Regions from separate parts of the Homo sapiens genome. Here regions 1, 2, 3, 4 and 6 are each linked to region 5. The links come from fine-mapping of genetic effects on gene expression. A gene starts in region 5. Each other region holds a variant in brackets. All regions are shown on one strand. Distances are from middle to middle.

Region 1 (4,000 bases), 35 kb after region 5:
TTAAAATCGTGTGCCTACTACGTGTTAGCACTGTTCTCGACAGATATAGCAGGAAACAAAACAGACAAAATCCTTGCCTTTGGGCCAAGTGCAGTGTTCATGCCTGTAACCCCAGCACTTTGGAAGGCTGAGATGGGAGGATCACCTGAGCCTGGGAGTTCGAGACTGCAAAGAGCTGTGATTGTGCCACTGCACTCCAGCTTGGGTAACGGAGTGGCACCCCGTCCCAAAAAACTAAAAATAAAATAAAATAAAATAAAATAAAATAAAATAAGCCTTGCCTTCATGAAACTTATATGCTAGTAGGAGACAGAATAAATAAGACAAATCAAATATGCAGCATGTTAGACTGTGGGAGGGGCTAAGGGGAGCAATGAGGTAGTGAAGGGAGACAGAAAATGGGAGATGGGGGCAATTTTCTTTCTTTTTTTTTTTTTTTTGAGACATAGTTTCACTCCATTGCCCAGGCTGGAGTGCAATGGTGCAATCTCGGCTCACTGCAACCTCCACCACCCGGGTTTCAAGCTATTTTCCTGCCTCAGCCTCCTTGAGTAGCTGGGATTACAGGTATGCACCACCATGCCCGGCTAATTTTTTTGTATTTTTAGTAGAGATGGGTTTTTGCCATGTTGGTCTGGCTGACCTCAAACTCCTGACCTCAAGTGATCCACCTGCCTCAGCCTCCCAAAGTGCTGGGATTACAGGCATGAGCCACTTCACCCGGCCTGTTTTGTTTTTAAAGAGACAAGGTCTCACTCTGTTGCCCAAGCTGGAGTGCGGCCTTGACCATAGCCCATGCAGCCTCGACCATAGCTCATGCAGCCTTGACCTCCTGGGCTCAAGCGATCCTCTTGCCTCAGCCTCCCAAGTAGCTGGGACTACAGATGTGCACCACCACACCCGGGCTCATATAGCTTCTTAACTGGGTGGGCAGAGGAAGCAGGGGGCAGAGGCCCATCCCCAAGGGAGAAACCATCCATCAGTGCGGGACTGACAGGGACACTCCACCCACTCAGCCCAGTGTGCTTCTGTCCAGGGAGACTCCAACGGCTGCCACAGCTGTGGTTTACTGACTTCAGGTCTGACTGCCCTCTCCAGAGCTGCCCTAGAATCCCTTTGTCTGTGGCTGAAGTGTCCCTCAGAGCTGAGGAACAAGTTTGGAGAGGACCAGGAGGGGCTCTCCCCACCCCCGCCCCTTTCCCACATGAAGAGAAACATTTCAGGGTTGAAAAAATGACTCATTCTCCCCAGAGAGGGCTGGAGCTGAGCTGAGTCAGGCAGAAGGAGCCCGCGGGTCACTTAATCGGCCTCCCTGCTCTGGCAGAGATGGCTCTGGGCCCCAGGAAGCCAGGGACAAATGGAGGCGGAGGTGGCAGAGATAAGCAGCTAGTGGAGTGTGCCAGCCTCTCCTTCCCCAACCGAGTGTGTCACTGGGCGTCACCCAGCACTGCTCAAGTTGAACCTGATGCAGAAGAAAAATTCCTCTGGACTTTCCTGAACGAGCTTTATGGCTGACTCACTGCCACCTGGAGCCTGCAAGAAAAGTCACAAATCACGAAAGAAGGAGAAAAACAGTTCTCGTTAAGCCATGTCTTCAATGGAGGTATCAGAGGTCGCCAGGAGGAAAGCACACATGTTTTGTTGTGGGTTTCCTTCTCTAAAGAAACACGTTACACAATAGAGGGG[G/T]GTTGAGACTGGTTGCAAAACTGCAAAATCCAATTTTGTGTACTGGATTCAATTTCTTCATTAGCTGACACTAAACACAGAGACGGGGCCCTTGTGACTAGATGAACCATAAACTGGCTCCAGGACCACCAACCTGGTACCTGATGGCTTGTTTCTGCTCCCCACTCTTTCCCTCCATGCATCTTTCTCTGAGCTTCTGCTCAAGGCAGGTGCCAGGACAAGCCAGCGTCTCGAGCGGTTCCCCTTCAGCGGTGAGAAGTAACGTCACAATTAAGGGGCAAGAGGGGCCAGAGGACAGAACAGTGCCAGTTCCTCATCCAGATTGAAATTTGCTTCCAGCTGCCTGTCCCCACACCAGAAAGGGCACTCCCTGCTCCCCATGCAGGCTTCTCATCCTCTTTTGCTGGCCTCCTCCCTCCTCGCTGTCCCTGGTCTTTTTCAGCCACAAGCAAAACACACTCAGCCTTGAAGTCAGATGCTCTACAGAAGCCTGCAAAAACAGAGTCAGGAGTTGTGTGGCCTTGGCCGAGTCACCTCACCTCACCAAGCCTCAGCCTCCTCACCTATTAAATGGGGACACAATAGGACCCACTTCCTTGGAGCTGACTGAGGTATGAATTGAGTCAATGCATTCATTGCTCAGCACACAGCTTAGCTCAAAGTTAATGCTCAATAAATTGTGGTTCCCACCTCCTGCTCCACGGAGCAGACATGAAACAGGTACGAGAAGCAACGAGAAGGGGCGGCAGCAGAGCATCAACACACAGGGAGTCCTGCCTACTGTCCCGACGCCACCCAGAGGCTCAAGGGGTGCCCCGGCTGCTCTCCGAAGCTGCCGGTGGCACTTTCGCCAGCCACCTTGTTTCCAAACTTGCTGCCAGCTTCCCCTAGCGCAGTGATTTCCACAACGGAGCTCCCGGCTGTGGGAAGGGGGCTTTCTTTGACTTGTCCTAAAATGGCCTCACCTGGACCCAGTGGGGTGTGGGGACCAGGGGGCTGGGCCTGGACCTATGAGCATGTTTCCTGCCTCCTCTCAGCCCCCATCCTTCTGCCGCCCCACGTTCTCAGCCAACAATAGCTGCTTCCCAGACTCAGCTGCCACACAGCACGAGCTCCCTGAGCAAAAATACCCATGCGGGGGAGGGTGGGGAGGTACAGGAGGGGCCACAAATGGGGAGGGCTGGGAGAAGGGGTGGCAGGATCAAGCTTGTCTCTTGAGTGCCTACTGTGTGTCAAGCTGAGAAGGGTGAAGCCCCTGGGGGTTAGAGAAACCTGGGAGACCGTGGGGTGTGTGTGTCGGGGGTGCTGGTCTCTAAGACAGCAGAGCCTCCAGTCCCCAGAGAGGGATCAGACCCAGGTCCAGGGTCTAAGGGTGAAGAAGGGGTCCAGGGAGAAGAAGGTGCCTAAGCAGGAAGCAGGTCCTAGAACCTAGTGAGAAAAAAGGGGGGCCTGAACCCCAAAGAGAGATCCAAATCTTAAGGAAAATAGGGGCTCAGGTTCGAGGAGATGAGGTTCATAATAGGGGGGTTATATTTCTGGTTTCAGGAGGGGGATGGTTTGGAGCAGCGTAGGGAGGTGGGGCGAGGCCTGCAGAGCTAAGAATCCATTTAACTGAGCAGCATCTCAGAGGTCTTAGGTGCCAACTGGGGTGACATCAGGGAAGAAAACAGAAATCCTAAGACAGCAGCCAGCAGCCTGCAGTTACGGAGCCTGGATGGGGAAGCAGCTCCCCGCTGCTGGGGAGACCCCACTGAGCACAGAGAGGGTCTCCCCAGCCTTTGGCCCCTGCGTCTCCTTTCTCTTCATGACAGGGCATCAGCTCGGGTCCCTGGAAACACCCCCGCTCCCCAGCAAGGGGCTGTGTTTGCACAGTGGCTCTGGCCCCTAAACCCCACCTCTGTGGACTCCGTCAAAGCCTGGGGAGGGCAGGGTCCTGAGGGCCCTGGTCTCGCTGGGGTCGCATAGGTCACATGGAAAGAATTTGGAGGTCACAGCACTGCCCTCCCTGTAGATGCTTCAAAGCACCCCACTCCCTTGAAGCTGCCAGACTCTGCAGGCAGCAGGGCATGGGGAGGGACGAAGCCACCAGGAGACTGGGAAGAGGGACTCTGCCAGAGCAGCTGCCAGGAATCTGGGGCCTGGAGTCCATGTTTGGCTGGAAGGCCCTGGGATGGGAGGCTCCAGCTTAGCGTCTGGCTCTAACGCTTGGACTGTGTGACTCCGGTGGCTCATGCAACCTTTCTGGGCTCTGTTTTCTCATTTGTCAAAGCGACGGGCTGATCCCCTGCCCCACTCCAATCAATCACCAGGCCCT
Region 2 (4,000 bases), 49 kb after region 5:
CAAACCTCAAACATTCCTTGCTGTCCAAAGCTGAAGAAAACCAGGCACAAAAGAGCACACATGAATGAATCCACACAGAGAAAGCTCAAAACCAGGCCAAACTAGAGGGCCAGTGGCCACCTGCTGCAGGGGACTGATGGAGGAGGCACACGGGAACTGTGGGAATGGTTCACACTTTGGTCCAGGTAGTATGCAGGTGTGTGCATTTGTAAAACGTGAGCTGTACAAGATATGCATACATTACTTAAGTAAATTATACTATACCACAATTTTTAGAAACGTACAATCTCTGCCCTCATGAGGTCCAGTCTGGCATCCTGTGTCATCATCGTAACAGTCATGACAATAACAGCAGGTGACACCGACTGAGTCCTCTGTATGTGCCAGCCCTCAGCTGGGCTACTCTGAAACAGGATCTGATTGAGCGTTTCTAACTACTGGGCAAAATACTGCCCCAGGAGCTCCATATTAGAGACAGGAGAATAAAGCTTAGAGAGGTGACACGCTGTCCAAGGTGACAATGCAAAAAGTGAGGATGCCAGGTTTGAACCTGGGCCCATCAGTCTCCAAGGCCCACTCCTGCTGCACGGGCAGATCCCGCCTCCCTGCCCTCTCCTCCCCACACTGCCTGCTCAGATGTGGCACCTGGAGGCAGCCAGTCCTCGCCCCTCGCCCCCTCCTCTCCAGTGCTGGAAGGAACAGCTCATGTGTGTAATGGACTCGAAGCTTCTGTGAAAGAGCTGCTGAGGAAATGAGTCCTTCCTTCCCCTTCTGCCCCCTCTGCCCTCCCTCATCCCTCTCATGGCCACATAGCTCTGAGGACATTTCAGCCCTGGACCTCCGCCCAATAAGAAGGGACTCCAATGGCCAGGCAGCTGGGGGTGTGTGTGGTATTGACCAAGGAGCTTTCTCAACCCCTGGACACCCCAGCCCAGCCTGTGGCCTCTCAGAGGACCAGGAGGACATGAGGTTAGAGTCCCCACCCTTGGCTCCAGTTTCCAAGTGACGCAACCAAGTGTCTGGATTCAGAGAATCGCAAAATGTTTATCTGGAATCACAACCACCACCATGACCATTTAATCAAACCTTATCCTGTGCCAAGTGCTACAAACATAGCTCATGAATCCTCACCAGCAAACAAAATGGGTACTGCTAGGCTCTCATTTTACAGAGGAAGAAAGTGGAGCTCAAAGGGGTTAGGTGCCTTGCCCCAAGTCTCACAGTGAGGAAGTGGTGGGGCTGGAATTCAAACCCAGATTTGCACAACTTCGAGTCTATCCTCTGAATGAGAGTATTATACTTGTCATCCTGCATGTCATTACTGAAGACGGCCCTGGAGTCAGTCTGCTCCAGCCATGTCATTTCACAGATGGGAAGACTGAGGCCCACGAAGGAAGACCGTGGTTCAGGAGGACAAGGATTAGTGGCAGAGCCTGGGCTGGAAGCCACCCTGGCCTTGCTTTCAATGACCAGATCAGAGCCTGGGAGCGGGCCATGTGCAGCTGGATGGGCAGCTGGAGGGAGTCAGGCAGGGAGGTGGGAGGCTCTGCTTCCAGGCAGAGGTAAATATTGACATGACTGTGTTTACGCTGTAACCTAACTCTGCCTGGCTGCTGCCCCAGGCCCACCCTCCTGCCTTCCCAGCCAAGGAGGGAAGGGAG[C/CT]TGTGGGAGGAGGATGGGGAGAGGAGGCTTCTGGGCCAGGGGCTGCTCCTCCTGCTTAGAGGGCTATGTGGTCAGAAAGGCTGGGACATCAGGTGTTAGGGGTGGGGGTTAGTGGAGACCCAGGCCAGGGGACCAGGTGGTGCCAGACAGGGAGGGGCTGTTATCTGAGCTGGGGAGCTGGGGATCTCAGGGCGGGGGACTGGGCTGGGAGTCACAAGGCCTGAGTTCAAGTTCTAGTTCTGCTACTGATTGGCAGTGGGAATCCAAGAACAGTCGGTGAATGGGGAAGAAAAGGTCTAACTGTCAAGTGCGGTGCAAAGGTGAACAATAAATAACCAGCATTTGAGCCTGGCCAGTGTCCAGCCCCAGTGAGCTCTCAACGCCTCTGGCTACCGGCTCAACAGTCCTATCCCTGTCCCAGTGGGCTTTCCCAGGAAGGCCAAGTTTCTGCCAAACTGAGTGGCAGCTTGGGACTGAAGCCATAATAATCTAGAGGAATCGGGGAGCCACTGTCTAGCTCCCGTCCCTAATTCCCTAAGTGACCTTTGAGCCTCAGCTTTTACAACTCTGAAATAAGGCTCACCCTCCTCCCTGGGGTTGGTGTGAAGAGCAGAGATTACATTTAAGTGCCAGGCACATAGTAGATGCTCATTTTGTCTCTCAGTCTTCCCACTTGTCAAACAGGGGCCTCGAAGTTGGTGGTTCCTAATCCCCTTTTCATACAAGCGCTCTAGCGTCTTTAGAAGGCCCAGAAGCCAGGCCCACCTCCCTGATGTTAGATCCCCACCTAGCCGATTTCCTGAATGCTCTCTAGAAACTTGCTCCCCTGTTTACACCTCCCCCCAGGAAGTCCAAAGGGGCCCTGTTGGGAGGAGGGAGCCATTCCTAGGCTTGTCAGCCCACCAAGACAGGCCTGGGGCATCCCAGCCACTCTGCCCTCAGGGGCCCAAGGAAAGGGCAGGCCCCAGGTCCTGGACTCCAGTGCCACCCTGACAGTGGGGTTCCGCCAGCACTGGTTGTTCATTAAACTGTGCCCCTCAGACTATTAACTCTTCAAGGACAAGTGAACCCCCCTCCTAATTTTTTATGTGTCCAAAACTTGGCGTCTAGGAAGCATTCCACCAAGTGTTAACACCTCTTCTGGGAAGGCTTCCCTGATACACACCTATGGGCAGGATGACTCTGGAGCTGCATCCCCAGGTTGGCACATAGCATTTTCTACCTTATTTCAGAGCGATCTGGGAACTTGTTCTTTCTCCTCTATTAAAGGCTCTGGAGACCAGGGCCCTCGGCTGGTTATCTGCCTGAAAGGATGAGGGGAAGGGTCAATACATTCAGGAGAAGGGGCTGTCTGGGACCTCTGTCTGGGGCCACAGCCTCCTTCTGTCTTCACTGACTGCTCTGGGCAGCATGCCAGGGGCGTGGTTTGGGCTAGAGGAGGACTGGATGGTGCCTGCAGCACCACCTTTCTCCCAGGGCCACTTCAGGTGCCTCCTCACTGGTTTCCCAGCCTTCGGCCTCACTCCTTCTACTCAATCACCACAAAGCAGCCTGTGACCATCTCAGAATGCAAATCCGACCGTGTCACTCCCCTGACTCTAAACTCCTCAGTAGGCTGGGTGCGGTGGCTCACACCTGTAATCCCAGCACTGTGGGAGGCTGAGGCGGGTGGATCACTTGAGGTCAGCAGTCCAAGACCAGCCTGGGCAACATGGCGAAACCCGGTGTCTACTAAAAAAATACAGAAGTTAGTCGCATGGTGGCACGCCTGTAATCCCAGCTACTCGGGAGACTGAGGAGAATCACTTGAACCAGGGAGGCTGAGGCTGCAGTGAGCTGAGATTGCACCACTGCACTCAGCCTGGGTGACAGAGCAAGACTATGTCTCAATAAATAAGTAAATTAATTAAATTTAAAAAATAAACTCCTGAGTGGCTCCCCACTGCCCTAAGGATTGAGCCCCAGGTCCTTCATATGACCATCCCTGAGTGCACCCTCCGGGCCACCTCCTAAGCACAGTCCTCCGTGCCTCCAGATGAACCATCCCTGAAGGCACAGCGGTCTGTACTCTTGCACATTCTGCTCCCTCCACCCCCCGCCCCCCAACACTCTTCCCAGTCCCACTCGCTCTTTAGGTTATGATTTTAATGCCATGTGCTCAGGGAGCCTTTTCTGATCCTCAGGTCAGGTTCCCGGTCCAATCCCACAGCCCCCCGCGTGTCTCCCTGACAACAGTAATTGCGCTTGTAATTTCCTGCTCTGTATCTGTCTGCCTGCCTGTCCATCAGACTGTGGGAGAGAGAGACCTATCAGTCTCACTCACACTGACCACGGCCCCC
Region 3 (4,000 bases), 29 kb before region 5:
CCAGAGAGGAGGGGACTAGCATAGTCCCCAGCGCATGCAGCCACCAACCCTGCTGCAATGCTTTCCTGGAGCCAAGCTAAGAGGCAGGGCTGTCCAGGGAACACGAGGCAGGCAGAAAACATCCACAGACACCTACTGTCTGCACCAGGAAGCCTCAGAGTCTGGGAAGTGCCCAAGAAAGCAAGAAAGATGTCTTCCCCTGCTCAGGAGTAAGCAGGTATAGGAGAGTGGCCTGGGTCCCTGCTCACGGGGAGGGCTCTGGTTCTGGGCCAAGACTCTCTGTGGGTCTTTCTGGAACAGGCACACACCCCTCCACACACACAAACATAACCCCTGAGGAAAAAACAGCAGCAACGTGGAGGAATATTTTCCCTCTAAACATGGCCCCCATCCCACACACAGATGCACAGAGAGACACACAGACAGATGACAGACATCTACAACAGATGCTGACACACACTCTCACACAAACACATGCACAGACAACCCACCCACGCAGCTACGCAATGTGCTCACACTCACATGTGCTCTCGCACACTCGCTCTCTCTCTTTCTGTCTTTCTCTTGGTGCTACCGGCTGGACGTATGAGGTGGGCCAGTGGTACCAGAAGGCTGGAGTGGAAGCCAGGGGGCGGGCAGGTGGCATGGGCCGGGGCTTGGGGAGGGAGAGCCCGAGGCACTCACCCTCTCAATCAACTCCATTAGAGGTTTGGCCCTGAGCTCCTCGATCCTGGTCTCGTTCATGCACGCACGGTAGTATACTTGCGCCTTTCTCTCTGCCTCGCTCACGCTGGCCGTGGAGTTTTCTGGAACAACAGACAGTGGAGTTTGCAATGCGGCCCCACTTGCCCACTGGGTGGCTTTGGGGCAGTCCCTCTTTTCGGAGCCTTGGTGTTCTCAGCTGCAAAGGAGCTCTGACATCTGCCTGTCGGAGTGGCAGTGAGGAATGCCGTCACCGTGAGTATGTGAGGGCCCCTGGACAGAGCCTGGCAAGCTGAAGGCGCTCCCGAAATTTTGCTGACTGCAAAGAAAAAGAATCGACCACGTTTCTCTCCCTCTGCCAGTTGGGTTCACAGACGTGTCCCCGGGTTGACCGCACGTGCCCACCAGCAGGACAGTGTTCTTCCCCTGTGGATAACGTGTGGTACGAACACCCCTGCCTGGTGCATGGGACAGAGGCCGGTCTTGGTTTTCAGATACCAGATGATCTTTCTTGTGATAAAGACTGAAGTTGGATGGAAACTCAAAAGGCTCATTCATTATGAATTTACTTTTTGCTTCCTCCTTGGAGGGGCTAGGCACGTTCACCAGGCTTACAGCCAACTCCTGGGGCCGTTTTCCACCGCCCTTGCCAACTCCAGCAAGCAGCATCTCCCTCCTGCAGTGGCTTCTCAGACCTTACCCCAGACACCCGGAGATTCTGTTCCCTTCTCCCTCACCTCAGTGCCCTGGTCCAGATGCCACCTGCTAAAGGCAATGCTCCGGTGGGTGCACCTGGTGAAGATGACCGCTTCCTGCCACTCAGGTCCACAAGGGACCCACTATATACTGGGGCTCTGTGCATGAGCCTTCTTCTCAGAGCCCTGCTCCAGGCCATGCCAGATACTCTAAACCCCTCAATTCCATCTGTCCCTCTTGCCTCCTCTGGGAAACTCACTGCTCCAGACACATTCCCTCATTTCATGTTCATTTCTCTCTGGCCCTGAAGCCCCTTCCTTTGCCTCCTTCAAAGATCCCTCAAACCCCAGCTCCTTCACAAAGACTTTCCTGGCAGAACTGTATCCATCCACCCTCTGACCAGATACTAGATGCTTACTCTATGCTAGGCCCTGTGTAAGCTGTGGGACACAAGAGAAAACATCCCTGTCCCCAAGGAGCTTCTGCATGGGACCCTGTTAAAATCCTACTCAACCTCAAGGCCTCTACGGGGACATCTTTTTGATGAAGGCTCTCCTAAGATGTTCATTCCCAAAGGCCCTCACCGCTCTGCATACCTGTGTCCACCATTAGACCGTGAGCTCCTTGGGACAGAAAGCGGGTCTTATTTATGCCTATAAAATTCAGAGCCCAGCCCTGTGCCTGGCACCCAGCAGAAACTCAAAGAAATGACCACAAGACACGACAGTGCTATGAACAACGCACGTGGCTATGGAACACAGAGAAAAGTCACT[C/A]CCTTCGGAGGGGTGGGGAGAAGAGGGGTCTCCAGAGGGCGTTCCATTTGAGCTGGTTCTGAAAGCTGAAGTTGTTCACCAGGTGGAAGGGAGGGGAGAGGCCACTGGGTTGCGCGGAGCAGGACAGGACAGTGTGGGGACAAGCGGGGATGCCTGAAAGGGCAGGCGGACTGCTTGGAGAAAAGAAAGCTGTCTGGCGTAGTCACTTGGAGCAAAGGACATGAGTCACTTCCTGGCCAGTCTTTCATCAGCTTTCCCAGCCTCACCCCGAGAGCTCCCTGCCCCCCGATCCTCACCATAAATAGCACCATGGCTTTCACTGATCAGAGCATCGAGCCCCGGTCTTGCTGACCTCAGGGTGATGGCCCTGAAAGGGGGACGGGACCAGCTTGGGGCTAGTCTGAAGGAAGACACAGAGACAAGAGAGCCCCTTGAGAGACAGGGTCAGGGGCCTGAACGAGGGGCTATGGAGGGTTCGTACAGCCCTGGAGACCATGGGCTACTGGGTTGCTAAGTGCTGGAAACACCTGCATGTCCCCCAGGCACCACGGCAGCTCTGAGAAGAGGACTCTGTGAGGGGAGGGCGGAAATGGGGAAGCTGGGATACAGAAGATCAGGGAGAGCAAAAGGGGAGTGCCTCGCCCCTCCCAGGGGCCTCGTTCCTATGGCAACACTCCCAATGAAGCTCTTGGAAGAAAAAGCAGGAGAATCGTCATTGCTCCCCAGGCCTCAGATGCAGCGTCTCACCCTCCACATCTGGCTCCGGCCAAAGCCCTGAAATGCCAGGGCCAGCGCTGGGGAAGGCACTCTGTGTGCTCTGGCCCATGAGTGAGCCTGGCATCTCCCTCCCCCAAGGCCACAAAGATAAGAGGCCTAAAGAACAGCTCCCAGGAGCAGCCTGGCTGTGCTAATCACAGCGAGTTCCGAGGCCCTCTTCCCTAACACCTGTCTGCAAGCCCCAAATTATCACCGGGAGGGAGAAGGAATGCCTCCTTCAGACACAGCCTCCCTTGCTCCTTCGCTGAGAGGCTGCCACAGGCCAGGTTCAAACTCCATTCCTTTGGCCCCCACCACCTGGGTGCCACGCTCACTTGCTTTCCCACATTGTTTACAAAGTTCCTTTTGCCTGGCAACCGCCAGGCCGGGTGTGGGGGACAGTGGGCAACATAACTGGAGGCCTGTCCACGTGAGGCATGCAGCGTGGTGAGTGAGGCAAACGGCAGCCAAGGACTCGCGGGAGCATCTGATTACGCACGGGGTGAACGCTGTGAGAACATCCCAGAGGCCTTGAAGGGGAGGGCGGGAGGAGACCAGGGAAGCCAAGCAAGGCCCCGGGGAAGCTTCGTTTGAGCTTCGGGCTGAAGGATGAACTCAATGTGGAGTAGAAGCAGGGGCTGTGCCTGGGCTGCCCCTCCGCCATTCCATGTCTTAGTGGTCCCTGCAGCCCCAGAACCAGCCCTGGATAGGGACCTAGTAGGCCCCTAGCAACAGGTGGTGGCTGCAAGAACAGAGCCCAGTGTCCCTTTCTGGAGAGGAAGGACATCTGGAAGATGAGAGGGTGATGAGGCCGGATGCCCACCTAAGGTTTCCTTTTTTTATATTTATTTTTTTTTTTTTTGAGACAGAGTCTCGCTCTGTCACTAGGCTGGAGCGCAGGGGCGCAATCTCGGCTCACTGCAACCTCCACCTCCTGGGTTCAAGTGATTCTCCTGCCTCAGCCTCCCGAGTAGCTGGGACTACAGGCGTGTACCACCACGCCTGGCTAATTTTTGTATTTTTAGTAGAGACTGGGTTTCACCATGTTGGCCAGGATGGTCTCAATCTCTTGA
Region 4 (4,170 bases), 44 kb after region 5:
GTCCCTCAGTTTTCCCACCTACAAAACAGGAATAACAATAATAAGTACCTCACAGGGTTGATGTGAAGATTAAGTAAATTTATAACATAAAATATTTAGTGCTGTACCTGGCACACAGCAAACACTCAAGAAACGCTATTATTATTACTGCTAAGACTAGTAAAACACCGCGGGCAGGAAAGAATGGAGGATTACTGAATAAAGCCCTAATGCAGACAGAAGTTACTACTATGTCACTCCCACAAGGAAACATCAAACATCACCACTCCCAGGAGCCTCCTCAGAAGCAACCTGCCAGCCCTGGGCTGGTCATTCTCTGATAGTATCAGGGCCGTTTTGTCCCACTTTCCTCCGTGGACTTGAGCTCACTAAGGGCAGCCTTACTGCACCCTCCCCCACCCCATCCTCAGCACCCAGTGGTGTGCAGCAGGGTTGTGGGAAATATCTGCCAGACAGACATGCTTAAGATGTGGCCCGAGTCCCTTCCCCTTTCTGGAGAGGCCTGCTTCACTGGGAAGGCAACTCTCCAATGCCATAGTACAAACCCCTAGAGAGCCTGCATCCCTTCCAGTCCCATCCCTGCCAGACACTGGGAACGCAGAGGTGAAAAGGCAGGGGCTCTGCTCCATCAGAACCCTGCCTAGTAATAAATCAGGTGACATTTATTAGGCACTTAGTGTACTGCAGGCACTGATCCTGGCACTTTACAAGAATCTCGTCGCTTATTTAAACAACTCTCTAAGCTTGGCACTATCCTTATTCCCATTTTACTTATGCAGAAATAGAGGCTAAGAATTAAGTACTTTGCCTGAGGCTGCTCCAGTAAATGGCAGAGCTGGGATTCAAACCCAGGCAGGCTGGGCCAGAGCTTGAACTCTTGATCTGTGTTAGTCCAGGGGGAGGGGGGAGGAGGGGGGGAGAGAGATAGGAGAGAGAGGGGAGGGAAGGGGAGGGGAGGAAACAGGAGGAGAGCGGAGGAGACAGGAGGAGAGGGGAGGAGAGGGGAGAGGAGGTGAGGGAGGGGAGGGGAGGGGAGGGGAGGGGAGGGGAGGGGAGGGGAGGGGGAGAAAGATTTCAGTCCAAGGTGACCCTGAGAGAAGTCAGTCAGGCGAGGAGTTAGAGGGAAGGGGGCTGCGGGAACACAGGATGGGGGTGGGGTGGGCGGATGGTGAAGTAAGTTTCTAAGAACAGCTATGGAAAGAGAAACAATTGGGACATGTGTCAACACTGTTACAATATTAGTGCCATCCAATTCTTGGAGTCTAGCACCAGATATGCACCATGCATGCTCTGAGTGCTGCTCCTCTCACTGAATATTTGCAGTCTTCCTGGGAGGGACTTATCCTCACTTCACAGATGGGAAATCCAAGGCTCAGAGAGGAAGACACGCCTGCTAAAAGTCCTTGGTGACAATTCAATGGCAGATCCAGGGTTCAAGCTCAAGTTGATCCCATGGCCCTTGGTCTTAACCACTAGGTCACACTGAACAAACAGGTATTGGTGGTGCGTGGTAGGGATCTGATGCAGAAGGTGGGGGGAGCTGCCCAGTTTTTCACCCGGGACCTGCACTTAGTGCCTCCGCCTCCCCCACCCCTATTTGGGCTGAAGGCAGACAGCACAGCTCCAGCCCACCAGAGCCGTGGGGGGGGCGGGGGGGTGGGTGGGTAGTAGTGTGGCCTGGCTAAGGAGTCTCTCAAATATAGTGGGGAAATAAAATAAGTAGCAGAGAGATGGGCCAACCATGGCCCATTCTCATCTTCCCTCCCTAACCGCGTTCATCAGAAAACAGCATATGTGAGGGCCAGCACGCAGCCATTCTTTCCGGTGCTTCAGGAGGTTAGGATGACAGAGCCACGGGCTGGGCGCAGTGGCTCACGCCCATAATCCCAACTTCTTTGGGAGGCCGAGGCAGGCAAATTACTTGAGGTCAGGAGTTCGAGACCAGCCTGGCCAACATGGTGAAACCCCGTCTCTACTAAAAAATACAAAAGTTAGCCAGGCATGGTGGCACCTGCCTGTAATCCCAACTACTTGGGAGGCTGAGGCAGGAGAATTGCTTAAACCCAGGAGGTGGAGGTTGTAGTGAGCTGAGATCGTGCCACTGCACTCCAATCTGGGCAACAGAGCGAGACTCCGTCTCAAAAAAAAAAAAATGACGGAGCCACAAAGGTAATAACAGCTCCCACCTCCCAAGGGCCAACTCCGTGCACCGTCCTGTGAGCTTTACAACCTGTCATAAATTATCAACCACTTTTCACAACACCACTATGAGAAAGGTGCTACCATCATCCCATTTCATAGAGGAGAAAACCGAGGCTCAGAGATGGTCACTCACCAAAGGTCACCCAGCTGGGACTAAGTGACAGAGCTGGGACTACAACCCACATCTGTCTGGCTCCAAAACCTCCATACCTCCATCTTATCTAGAAAGAGTGCTGGATGAGGAGTCTAGAATCAGGGTCTAAGTCCTGCCTCTAACCTGCTGTATAGCCTCAGGTAAGTCTCTTTCCCTTTGTGAGCCTTGGTCTGCCCTATGAGGAAGTTGGCCTAGATGACCTCCAAGTCCCACCTCCTG[T/A]GACTCTGTGAGCTCTCATGCCCTCCTCTCTCTGGCTCCCAGCCACCACACCGGAAGCCCAACAGGATGCCGAGTAACCACCCACTGAACACTCAGGGGCGAAGGAAGATGAAGTGCCGCTTTCTCATGGCCATCTTCCACCAGACCAGCCCAGGAAACAAGGAACCACAAAGCCACAGGATTCCCTCCAGCGTGGCCGTGTGAACAGCAGCCCTGGAGCAGAGGGGCTGGGCATCCCCTTGCGGCCATCACTTCCTATGCCCTCACTTCTCGGCAGGGTGTGCGGAAGCGAGGGAGGCAGGCTCCAGCTCAATGCCCTCTGGCTCTGTTTCTCTGGGTCCCCAGGGGCTGGGACGGTGGGAACTGGTCACTCTGGGAGAATCCCAAGCCCACCCCGGAAGGCTGAGTTGAAGTGGAGGTTCAGACAGGTCTGTCTGGCTCCACAGGTAACTTTTGCCCACTGTGCTCTGCTGCCAGCAAGGTCTCGAAGCATCTGGGATGCCTGGCTACCTCTCTCCCATCCCTGAAGTAGCAGCCAAAATCCCAGATCCTGCAGAAACCTACGCCTCCTCAGCCTCAGGACAGACGAATATCCTGAGGCCCGCGCTCCTGCCTCCCTCCTGCCCCCTACAGTCCATGCTCTACACAGCAGCCAAGGTCTTTCCAAACAGAAACCAAGCCCAGTCGCCCCTCAACGTGGGGTCCTCCAGTGGCTTCCCACCACTATTAGAACGAAATGCTGACCCCTGCCCCACAGACAAGGCTGTCCATGGCTTGCCCCTCCAGGCCCACCTCTCCCTAGCCTTCCCTCCACCCTCCACTGCCTCTGCCCGGCCACACCAGCGTTCACCCCCTACATGTGCCAAACTTGCTGTTCCGGCAGCCGGGAACTCTCATCTCCCCCGCCCCCGTCTTTGCCCGGCTGCCCCCTCCTCAACCTTCATGTCCCAGCTCAGACATCACCTCCTTTCCTGGCCGCTCCTCTAGAGCGGCCCCCTCCCCTCACAGCCACTCTCCACCACATCGCCCTGTTTTGTCTCCTTTCTTCTCTCGGAGCGATCCTTCTGGTGGGTGGCTTTGCCTGTTTGGTCTCCAGCTTCCTCCCCTAGAGTGCAGCTCCTTAGGGGCAGGCATGTGACTGCTCCATTCTCTTCTGTCCCCACAATGAGGCAGGGCCTCCTTGGGTGCTCACAACCCTGAAGATGAGGACGCTGCAGCCCTGAGAGGTGGATTGAGCCGCCCAAAGTCCCAGAGCCAGGGAATAGCAGGGTTCAGACCGAGGGCGACCTGATGCCAAGCCTCAGTGGGTGGGGGGCTCTCACGGCTGGGGGCCTACTCTGGAGGGCTCTCACCCAGGGTGGACAGAGTCGCAGTGAGGCTCTTAGGGCGGGTACCAAGAATGAAGGGCCCACCAGCTTTCCCAAATGGTCCTTCTGCAAGCTACAGGCCAGCTGAGCTCCTGCCTGGGGTGGGTGAGACCCTGGGGGTGAAGAGGCACCAAACACCAGGAGCAAAGGCTCCCAAATGAGGGAGACCACAGACACAGGGAGCTGGGAAGCTTCGACCCACCCAGTGCTTGACGGAAGGGGAAAGTG
Region 5 (4,000 bases):
TGTATCCATTTGGGGACAGGACACTAACTCCAACCATAGACAACAGCGACGTGACCCCAGGAATGTCTCTAACCTCTCTTTGTCCCTCACCTTTATCATCAATAATGTGGCCACGCCAGCCCTTACTTCATGGGTCATAAAACAATAATCCTAGCAGGCTGCATATAATATGTATGACATCCACTTTCTCTAACATCCATTTCACAGTGAGGCCATCACCACTGAAAGAGATTAAGCCACTAGCCCAAGGTCGTGAGTGGAGTAAGAACTCAAACCCGGGTCGCTGGCTTCAGAGACGGGGCTCCTCCTGCTTGGCCGGGGGCCCTCCCCAGAGAAATGTGCTATTTCATCTGAAAAAGGTTATACCCCAAACAGGCTGCTGTGAGGATAACAGCAACATGGCATTATTACTTTGCTGTGAATTCTGAAATGCTTTTGTGTTGATATATTTAGACCCTTCTGTGGAAGATGAGACTGAAAAACATTGCTGATTAGATTCTGTTTTGATTTGAGAAGGGAAAAGCACCTGCCCCAGAAATCTAATTTCCTGCTGGCTTCAGCCTCTTAAGAAGAGTCCACTGGGAAGAGGTTTGAGACAGACAGGGTTTGACGTGTCGCTCTCGGATTTTTAGCTCGGTGACCGAAGGCCAGTGGTTGCCCCTCTCAGAGCCTCAGTTTCCACATCTGTAAGTGGGGACAGTAATCCCTACAGGTCTCAGGGGTGTTCCTGAAGGTTAAGCAGGGGTACCACACATCCCAGTGGGTAGAGCCCTTGGGACTGTGAGTTTGGGTCCCCTGGGCCTATGTGACCCTGGAGGAGGAACTCCATCAATGGTGTCTCCCTGCGCTGGGAGGATTATTCCCGCTTCTAAGAGGCGTATCTGAGTGGAGTGGGCCTGGCAACTAAGCGTCCATTCATCCTAAGCTCGCCTTTGGGAAGAGTTGTGTGCCAGTTCACCAAGTGGCCCCAAGATTCTCCCAAATACTTCCCTTGGTCTACCTGGCAGAAGTCCTCCGAGAATTGGGGTGCCCCAGCTCCTCTTTCTACACTGGCTTCTCAAGAGCCAGATCACTGGGTCTCCTAGGGTGTCCGCAGCGTTTCCAGCACCTTCCCACGCACCTGGCTGGCTCCAAACCCCTCCAGCACTGAGGTCTTGGCCACAACTGTCCCAGTGCAGCCCCCCAGGGACGGGAGGGCAGAAAGCAGCCTTGCTCAATGTCCTGTTACAAGGCAGGGACGGGGGTGGGGCCCTCCCCAGGAGTGGGCAGATGGGATGCCCACGGGCGGAGACCCTGGGGAGGGGAGGAATTGGACTTCCTTAGTAGGCTGGAAAAGGGGCAGGGAGAGGGGGCAGAGAACAGGTTTCTGGCCCCAGGAAACTCAGGTATTGGGAGGGCAAGAGGAAGAGGGTGGTACTGCCTCCCGGATAAGGTGACCAACTTTCCCAGTTTGCCCCGGACTGGGGGAGTGGGTTCCAGGGATGCAGGGCTTTCCACGCTAAAACAGAAACAGCCGTAGACTCTGCCGGTAAAGGGCCTGGGCAAGTCCCGGGACATGCACAAACTGTGCCTTCTGTGGAAAGGGAACTGGACCAGTTCGGGTCTCGGGGGTGCTTTCAACTCTGCCACCTGGGCTGTGGCCCCAGAAGCAGGTGGCCGGGAGGCTCTAGGGATGGCGGGGGCAGGTGAGGGGAGACTGGTGGGCTCCGGAAGGCTTCTCAGCGCGGAGCTCCAGCTGCGGGGAGGCGCGGCCCCTCCCGGATGCCGGGACGAGGGAGGGGAAGGGAGGGGAAGAGGCGGGGTAGGTAGGGGCGGGGGGCGCGGCAGCGGCAGCGCGCATGCCCGGGCCCGGGGCGCCTGGACCTCGGGAGGGAGCGGAGGGCGCCTACCTGCAGGCCGTTGGGGTATGCGTCGCCCTCGGAGAGCGAGTCCACCAGGTCCTCCTCGTCCAGCGTGGCCCGCTTGTACGTCGACATCTGCAAGGCCAAATGCAGCACGGACTCCCTCAGCGCCTCCATGGCTCTCGCGCCCGAATGGGGAAGCGGCCCCGACCCTGGCGCCGCCGCCGCCGCGCCCCGCCCCGGCCTGGACACCCGAGACCGAGACCGGCCCACGGAGCGGCCCGCGCGGGGAGGGGTCCCGCCCGCCTCCCGCCCCCGCCCTCCAGGCCGCGCCCGCCTCACCCCCAGCGCCGACAGCAGGGCGGACACCGGGGGCGGCCACACGCCCCGCATGCTGTGCCCCAGACGCCTGGTCCCGCTGCCCGGGTGGCCGGGATGGGATGGGCCGGGCCAGGCGTTGCACCACCTTCGCGGGCGGGGCCTGATCGGTTCGCCGGCGCCCGGTTCCCAACCTCCGGCCTCCCGGGGAGACCCCAAGACCCGAGAGGCCCGGGGGAGATGGGGACCCCTCCCTTCCCCGGAGGTCGGGAGTGGGGGCCCCCAAACTGAAGCCCCTAGCAGGCAGGAAAGGCCCTCACAGTGACCCCTCCTTCGAGAAAATCTTAAGTCCCCCTTCAACAACCGGGTCCCCAGTGGCAGATAACAAAAGTATCAGGAAGGTGCCCTCGATGTGGCCCAGAGCAATCAAGACAGGTTCCCCCCGGCATCAGCCCTTAGGTGTGTCTAGGGGGTTAATGCTAGAAAGACCAGACAAAAAAGGTGGGGTAAAAAGGTAGGTGTCCCCTTTCAGTTCCCCTTTCTAGCTCAGAGGCCTTTAAGCCAGAGTTCGTGAATGAGTTTCAGAAAATTTCAGAGAACTCCCTGACACGGGATGAAAGGAGCTGTGTGTGTGCATTTGGATGGCTGCAGGGTGGTCCGGTGGTCACCCCCGTGCTCAAAGGTGTCGCCCTCCCTGCAACACAAGAGAACCATTGCTCCAGGGGGAGTCAGAAGCCAGGAAGGGGACCCTTCTTTCCCATCTTCCCCCTCAAGACTCGGAGCCTCAGCCAGGTGCCCCCCTCCCCAGCCCCTGAGCCCTCTCCTATAACCCTAGGCAGGGAAAGGGGGCTCTCTCGGATATGAGGTGTTCAGTTAGGGACTCAGGCCCAGCACTGTCCCAACCAAGAACCCCAGAGAGGTCTAACCCAGCAGATTTCCAAAGGACTCTCCGCTTCTAGCAAGGCGGGAATCCCTGCATTTATGCGTACTTTTCAGCTTTGCAAAGTGCATTTCTGCTCATTCCAAATTTGATTCTCACAGTCACACATATGTGTGAATAAACAGGTTTAGAGGGGTGAGGGGCCTGACGTCACAGGGACAGTGAGGGCAATGGCTCCAGATGGTCTCCTGGCTTCCACTCCTGCCCTCTGACAGCCCCCTCAGCAGCCAGGATGAGCCTTTAAAATGAAATCTGGCTGAGGCCAGGCACCATGGCTCGCTCGCGCCTGTAATCCCAACACTTTGGGAGGCCAAGTTGGGTAGATCACTTGAGGTCAGGAGTTCAAGACCAGCCTGGCCAACATGATGAAACCCCATCTCTACTAAAAATACAAAAAATCAGCTGGGCCTGGTGGCATGCATCTGTAATCCTAGCTACTCAGGAGGCTGAGGCAGAAGAATCGCTTGAACCCAGGAGGTCGAGGTTGCAGTGAGCTGAGATTGTGCCACTGTACTCTAGCCTGGGTGACAGAGTGAGACTCCATCTCAAACAAACAAACCACAGAAATCTGGCTGGGTTCAGTGGTTCACACCTGTAATCCCAGCACTTTGGGAGGCTGAGGCAGGAGATCACTTGAGTCTAATTCTAGGCCAGCCTGGGCAACACGGACCCCATCTCTACAAAAAGAAAATATATATATATATATTTATATATTATATATTTTTAATTAGCAGGACGTGGTGGTATGCGCCTGTAGTCCCAGCTACTTGGGAGGCTTAGGTGGGAGAATCGCTTGAAGCCAGGAGGTGGCGGCTACAGTGAGCTGTGATTGCACCACTGCACTCCAGCGTGGACGACACAACAAGATCTTGTCTGAGTAAATAAATAAAATAAAAAAAAA
Region 6 (4,000 bases), 78 kb before region 5:
AGGCATGTGCCACCATGCCTGACTAATTTTTGAATTTTTAGTAGATACTGGGTTTTACCATGTTGGCCAGGCTGGTCTTGAACTGCAGACCTCAAGGAGATAACCCTTCTAAGATGAAGAATACATTGTTGCAGCTGGACCCTCCTACAACCAAGAAAGAGGCACAAGGCCTGGTAGGTCCCTTTGGATTTTGGAGACCATGTATTTCACATTTGGGTATTTTGCTCTGACCCATTTACTGAGTGATCTGAAAAGCTGCTAGTTTTAGATTATTTATTTATTTATTTATTTATAGCTACACTCTCTGGAATGGGAAAAAACTGCTAGTTTTGAGTGGGACTCAGAACAAGAGAAGGCTCTGAAACAGGTCCAGGCTGCCGTGCAAGCTGCACTGCCACTTGGGCCATAGGATACAGCAGATCCAATGGCACTTGGAGTGTCATTAGCAGATAGAGTTGTCTTCAGTCTTCGGTAGACCCCTCTAGGTGAATCACAGTGCAGACCCTTAGGATTTTGAAGCACGGCCCCACCATCCTCTGTGGATAACTACTCTCCTTTTTTTTTTTTTTTTTGACCAAGTCTCACTCTGTCGCCCAGGCTGGAATGCAATGGCGTGATCTTGGCTCAATGCAACCTCCACCTCCTGGTTTAAGCGATTCTCCTGCCTCAGCCTCCTGAGTAGCTGCAGTTACAGGCATGCGCCACTATGCCCAGCCAATTTGTGTATTTTTAGTAGAGATGGGGTTTTGCCATGTTGGCCAGGCTGGATTGTAGGCGTGAGCCACCACACCCAGTTAGCAGAAGAGGATTTTAATAATCAAGTGGGGCCAGGTGCAGTGGCTCACGCCTGTAATCCCAGCACTTTTGGAGGCCGAGGTGGGCGGATCACGAGGTCAGGAGATCGAGACCATCCAAGTTTCATGGGGCCAGGAGTCAAAGGGTAGAAATTAGGAGATTAGGAGTGACTCCAATCACCTTTTTTTTTTTTTTTTAAGGCAGTCTCTCGCTCTGTCACTAGGCTGGAGTGCAGTGGAGCAATCTCGACTCACTGAAACCTCCGGCTCTTTTGTTCAAGCGATTCTCCTGCCTCAGCCTCCCGAGTAGTTGTGATTACAGGCACGTGCCACCATGCCCAGCTAATTTTTGTATTTTTAGTAGAGATGGGGTTTCACCATGTTGGCCAGGATGGTCTTGATCTCCTGACCTTGTGATCTGCCTGCCTCAGCCTCCCAAAGTGCTGGGATTACAGGCGTGAGCCACCGCGCCTGGCCCCCAATCACTTTTATCCCTACTGATGCACTAGCAGCATTTCTGCTTCCCGTCCCCATGACCTTAGGCTCTGCTAGTTTAGAGGTTGGTTCCAAAGGGAGAAATGCTTCCACTAGGCAACACAATGATTACACTGAACTGGAGGTTGAGGCTGCCACTCAGTCGCGTTGCGCTCCCCATACCCAAAATTAACAGGCAAAGAAGGAGGTCACTGTACTGGCTGGGATGACTGGTCTTGATTACTAAGGGAAAATTGTATTGCTGCTACACAACAGAGGTAAGGGAGAGTATATCTGGAATACATGAGCTCCCTTAGGGCATCTGTTAATATAGACAGTCTTTGTCTTACGATGATTTGACTTATGATTTTTTGACTTTATGATGGGCAAAAGTGATACACATTCAGTAGAAACTATCCTTTGAATTTTCAATTTTGATCTCTTCCTGGGCTAGCAATATGGAGTACAATGCTTTCTCATGATGCTGGGCAGTGGCAGCGACCGCGGCTCCAAGTCAGCCACACGATCACGAGGGTAGACAGCTGATACTGTAATCTACAGTGTGCTGTATTTAATAAATTACGTGAGATAGTCAACATATCTAGTCAACAAAATAGGCTTCGTGTTAGATGATTTTGCCCAACCGTAGGCTAACGGAAGTGTTCTGAGCACATTTCAGGGCAAAGCTATGATGTTCAGTAGGTTAGATGCATTAAGTGCATTTTCAATTTAGGATATTTGCAACTTAAGATGGATTTATCAGGGCCAGGTGCAGTGGCTCACACCTGTAATCTCAGCACTCAGGCCAAGGCAGGCAGATCGCTTGAGCCCAGGAATTCGAGACCAGCCTGGGCCACATGGTGAAACCTTGTCTCTACTAAAAATACAAAAAAATTAGGCAGGTGTGATAGTGCGTGGAGGCTGAGGTGGGAGGATCACCGGAGCTTGGGAAGTTGAGGCTGCAGTGACCAAGATTGCACACTGCCCTCCAACCTGGGTGACAGAGTGAGACCCCATCTCAAAAAAAAAAAAAAAAAAAAAAAAGAAGATGGATTTATCAGGACATAACCTCATTGCAAGTGGA[G/A]AGCATCAGTACCACGTCCTGTGACTAAAGTAAACAAAAGCGACAACAGCCCAGTTCAGGCAGGACTATTAACGGTCCAGGAATTTCAGGAATGAAGGTTTGGGTCACCCCACCAGGCAAAGAACCATGACCAGATGAGGTGCTTGCTAAGGGAAAAGGAATATGGAAAGGGCAGTGGAGGAAGAGGAATTATAAAGACCAGCTCTGACCACATGACCAGTTGCAGAAATGAGGACAGTAATAACTATGAGTATTTCTTCCTTATTTTGTTATGAATGTTTGTATATAGATTAGCCAAATATTTTTGTTTTCTTCCCTCTTATTCCCTTATCATCTAACATGAGATATATTAATAATTTAGGCTGGGTGTGGTGGCTCACGCCTGTAATCCCAGCTTTTTGGGAGGGCAAGGCAGGCAATTGCTTGAGGCCAAGGAGTTTGAGACCAGTCTGGGCAACATGGCAAAACCCTGTCTCTACAAAAAATACAAAAAATTAGCTGGGGGTGGTGGCGTGTACCTGTAGTCCCAGCTACTGGGGAGGCTGAGGCAGGAGGATCACCTGAGCCCAGGAAGTGGAGGCTACAGTGAGCCGAGATTGCACCACTGCACTCCAGCCTGGGTGATAGAGTGAGACCCTGTCTCAAAATAAATAAATAAATAAAATAATAGTAAACTTTATATTATGGTATTTAGGTTACAGGATATCAAAAGAGAAGAATGAGCATTATCCAAGGATTTTGCATCTTCTCCTGGGGAAGGGTTGGTGTGTTTTTGGTTGCATCCAGGATAGCTGTATCATGTTAGGTTTAAGTATGACTTTGTTATTGTGTGTATTTGGAAATGAAGTGTGGTTTAAGGATATCAATGAGGAAAATTAAAATTCTTCCATGATTTTTAAAACTTTTTTCTTTAGCCTGAGTCTAGTTGTCTTTCCTACTAGATTGATTGATTGATTGATTGATTGATGGAGACAGACTCTCACTGTCACCCAGGCTGGAGTGCAGTGGTGCAATCACAGTTCACTACATCCTTGACCTCCTGGGCTCAAGTGATCCTCTCATCTCAGCCTCCAGAGTAGCTGGGACTACAGGCACGTGCCACCACACTCTGCTAATTTTTGTATTTTTTTGTAGAGACAGGGTCTTGCTATGAAGCTCAGGCTGGCCTCAAACTCGTGGGCTCAAGCAATCTTCAGGCTCCCAAAGTGCTGGAATTACAGGTATGAGCCATTGCACCCAGCTTCCCTATTTTCTTTTAAAGAGATGGAGTCACAGCCTCCCTTTTTTTTTTGACAGGGTTTCACTCTGTCACCCAGGCTGGAGTGCAGTGGCGTGATCTCAGCTCACTGCAACTTCTGCATCCTGGGTCAAGCAAACCTCCCACCTCAGCCTCCTGAGTGGTTGGGACTACAGGCATGTGCCACCACACCAGGCTAATTTTTGTATTTTTAGTAAAGACAGGTGTCTTGCTGTGTTGCCCAGGCTGGTCTCGAACTCCTGAGCTCAAGTGGTCCTCCTGCCTCGGCCTCCCAAAGTGCTGGGATTACAGGTGTGTGCCACTGCACAAGTGCCCCCTTTATCCTATACCAATTCCCACACAGACACAGAAGTATTTCTTGCTGTCTAATCCATTCTAAGTGTTCAGTTT

The links. PIP is the estimated chance that this variant, and not a neighbour inherited with it, causes the effect.
Region 1: its variant is fine-mapped to the expression of ECE1 in whole blood (TOPMed, PIP above 0.99). The same link has a PIP of 0.9 or more in blood mononuclear cells.
Region 2: its variant is fine-mapped to the expression of ECE1 in T cells (TOPMed, PIP above 0.99).
Region 3: its variant is fine-mapped to the expression of ECE1 in whole blood (INTERVAL, PIP above 0.99).
Region 4: its variant is fine-mapped to the expression of ECE1 in whole blood (TOPMed, PIP above 0.99). The same link has a PIP of 0.9 or more in blood mononuclear cells.
Region 6: its variant is fine-mapped to the expression of ECE1 in whole blood (TOPMed, PIP 0.98).

Annotation. Positions count from the first base shown.
Region 1 is chr1:21,323,396-21,327,395 of GRCh38, forward strand. It overlaps a transcript of ECE1 not described here. Among named protein-coding and RNA genes, the nearest start is that of ECE1-AS1, 32 kb to the left of the region's middle. RefSeq lists an enhancer at 322-882. The variant G/T (reference allele first, on the strand shown) is at 1,687.
Region 2 is chr1:21,337,283-21,341,282 of GRCh38, forward strand. It overlaps a transcript of ECE1 not described here. Among named protein-coding and RNA genes, the nearest start is that of ECE1-AS1, 46 kb to the left of the region's middle. RefSeq lists an enhancer at 1,219-2,161. The variant C/CT (reference allele first, on the strand shown) is at 1,662.
Region 3 is chr1:21,259,587-21,263,586 of GRCh38, forward strand. ECE1 (endothelin converting enzyme 1) reads right to left here. Exons shown (of 19, transcript NM_001397.3): 5 at 685-806. LOC124903872 (a long non-coding RNA gene) reads left to right here and starts at 2,497. Exons shown (of 3, transcript XR_007065530.1): 1 at 2,497-3,438. RefSeq lists an enhancer at 1,854-3,053 and a silencer at 2,590-2,884. The variant C/A (reference allele first, on the strand shown) is at 2,172.
Region 4 is chr1:21,331,694-21,335,863 of GRCh38, forward strand. It overlaps a transcript of ECE1 not described here. Among named protein-coding and RNA genes, the nearest start is that of ECE1-AS1, 40 kb to the left of the region's middle. RefSeq lists an enhancer at 2,683-2,902. The variant T/A (reference allele first, on the strand shown) is at 2,576.
Region 5 is chr1:21,288,181-21,292,180 of GRCh38, forward strand. ECE1 (endothelin converting enzyme 1) reads right to left here and starts at 2,283. Exons shown (of 19, transcript NM_001397.3): 1 at 2,184-2,283; 2 at 1,890-1,976. The coding sequence starts at 2,234. RefSeq lists an enhancer at 727-1,288 and silencers at 1,965-2,134, 2,185-2,364.
Region 6 is chr1:21,209,863-21,213,862 of GRCh38, forward strand. No RefSeq gene overlaps it. Among named protein-coding and RNA genes, the nearest start is that of EIF4G3, 35 kb to the left of the region's middle. The variant G/A (reference allele first, on the strand shown) is at 2,353.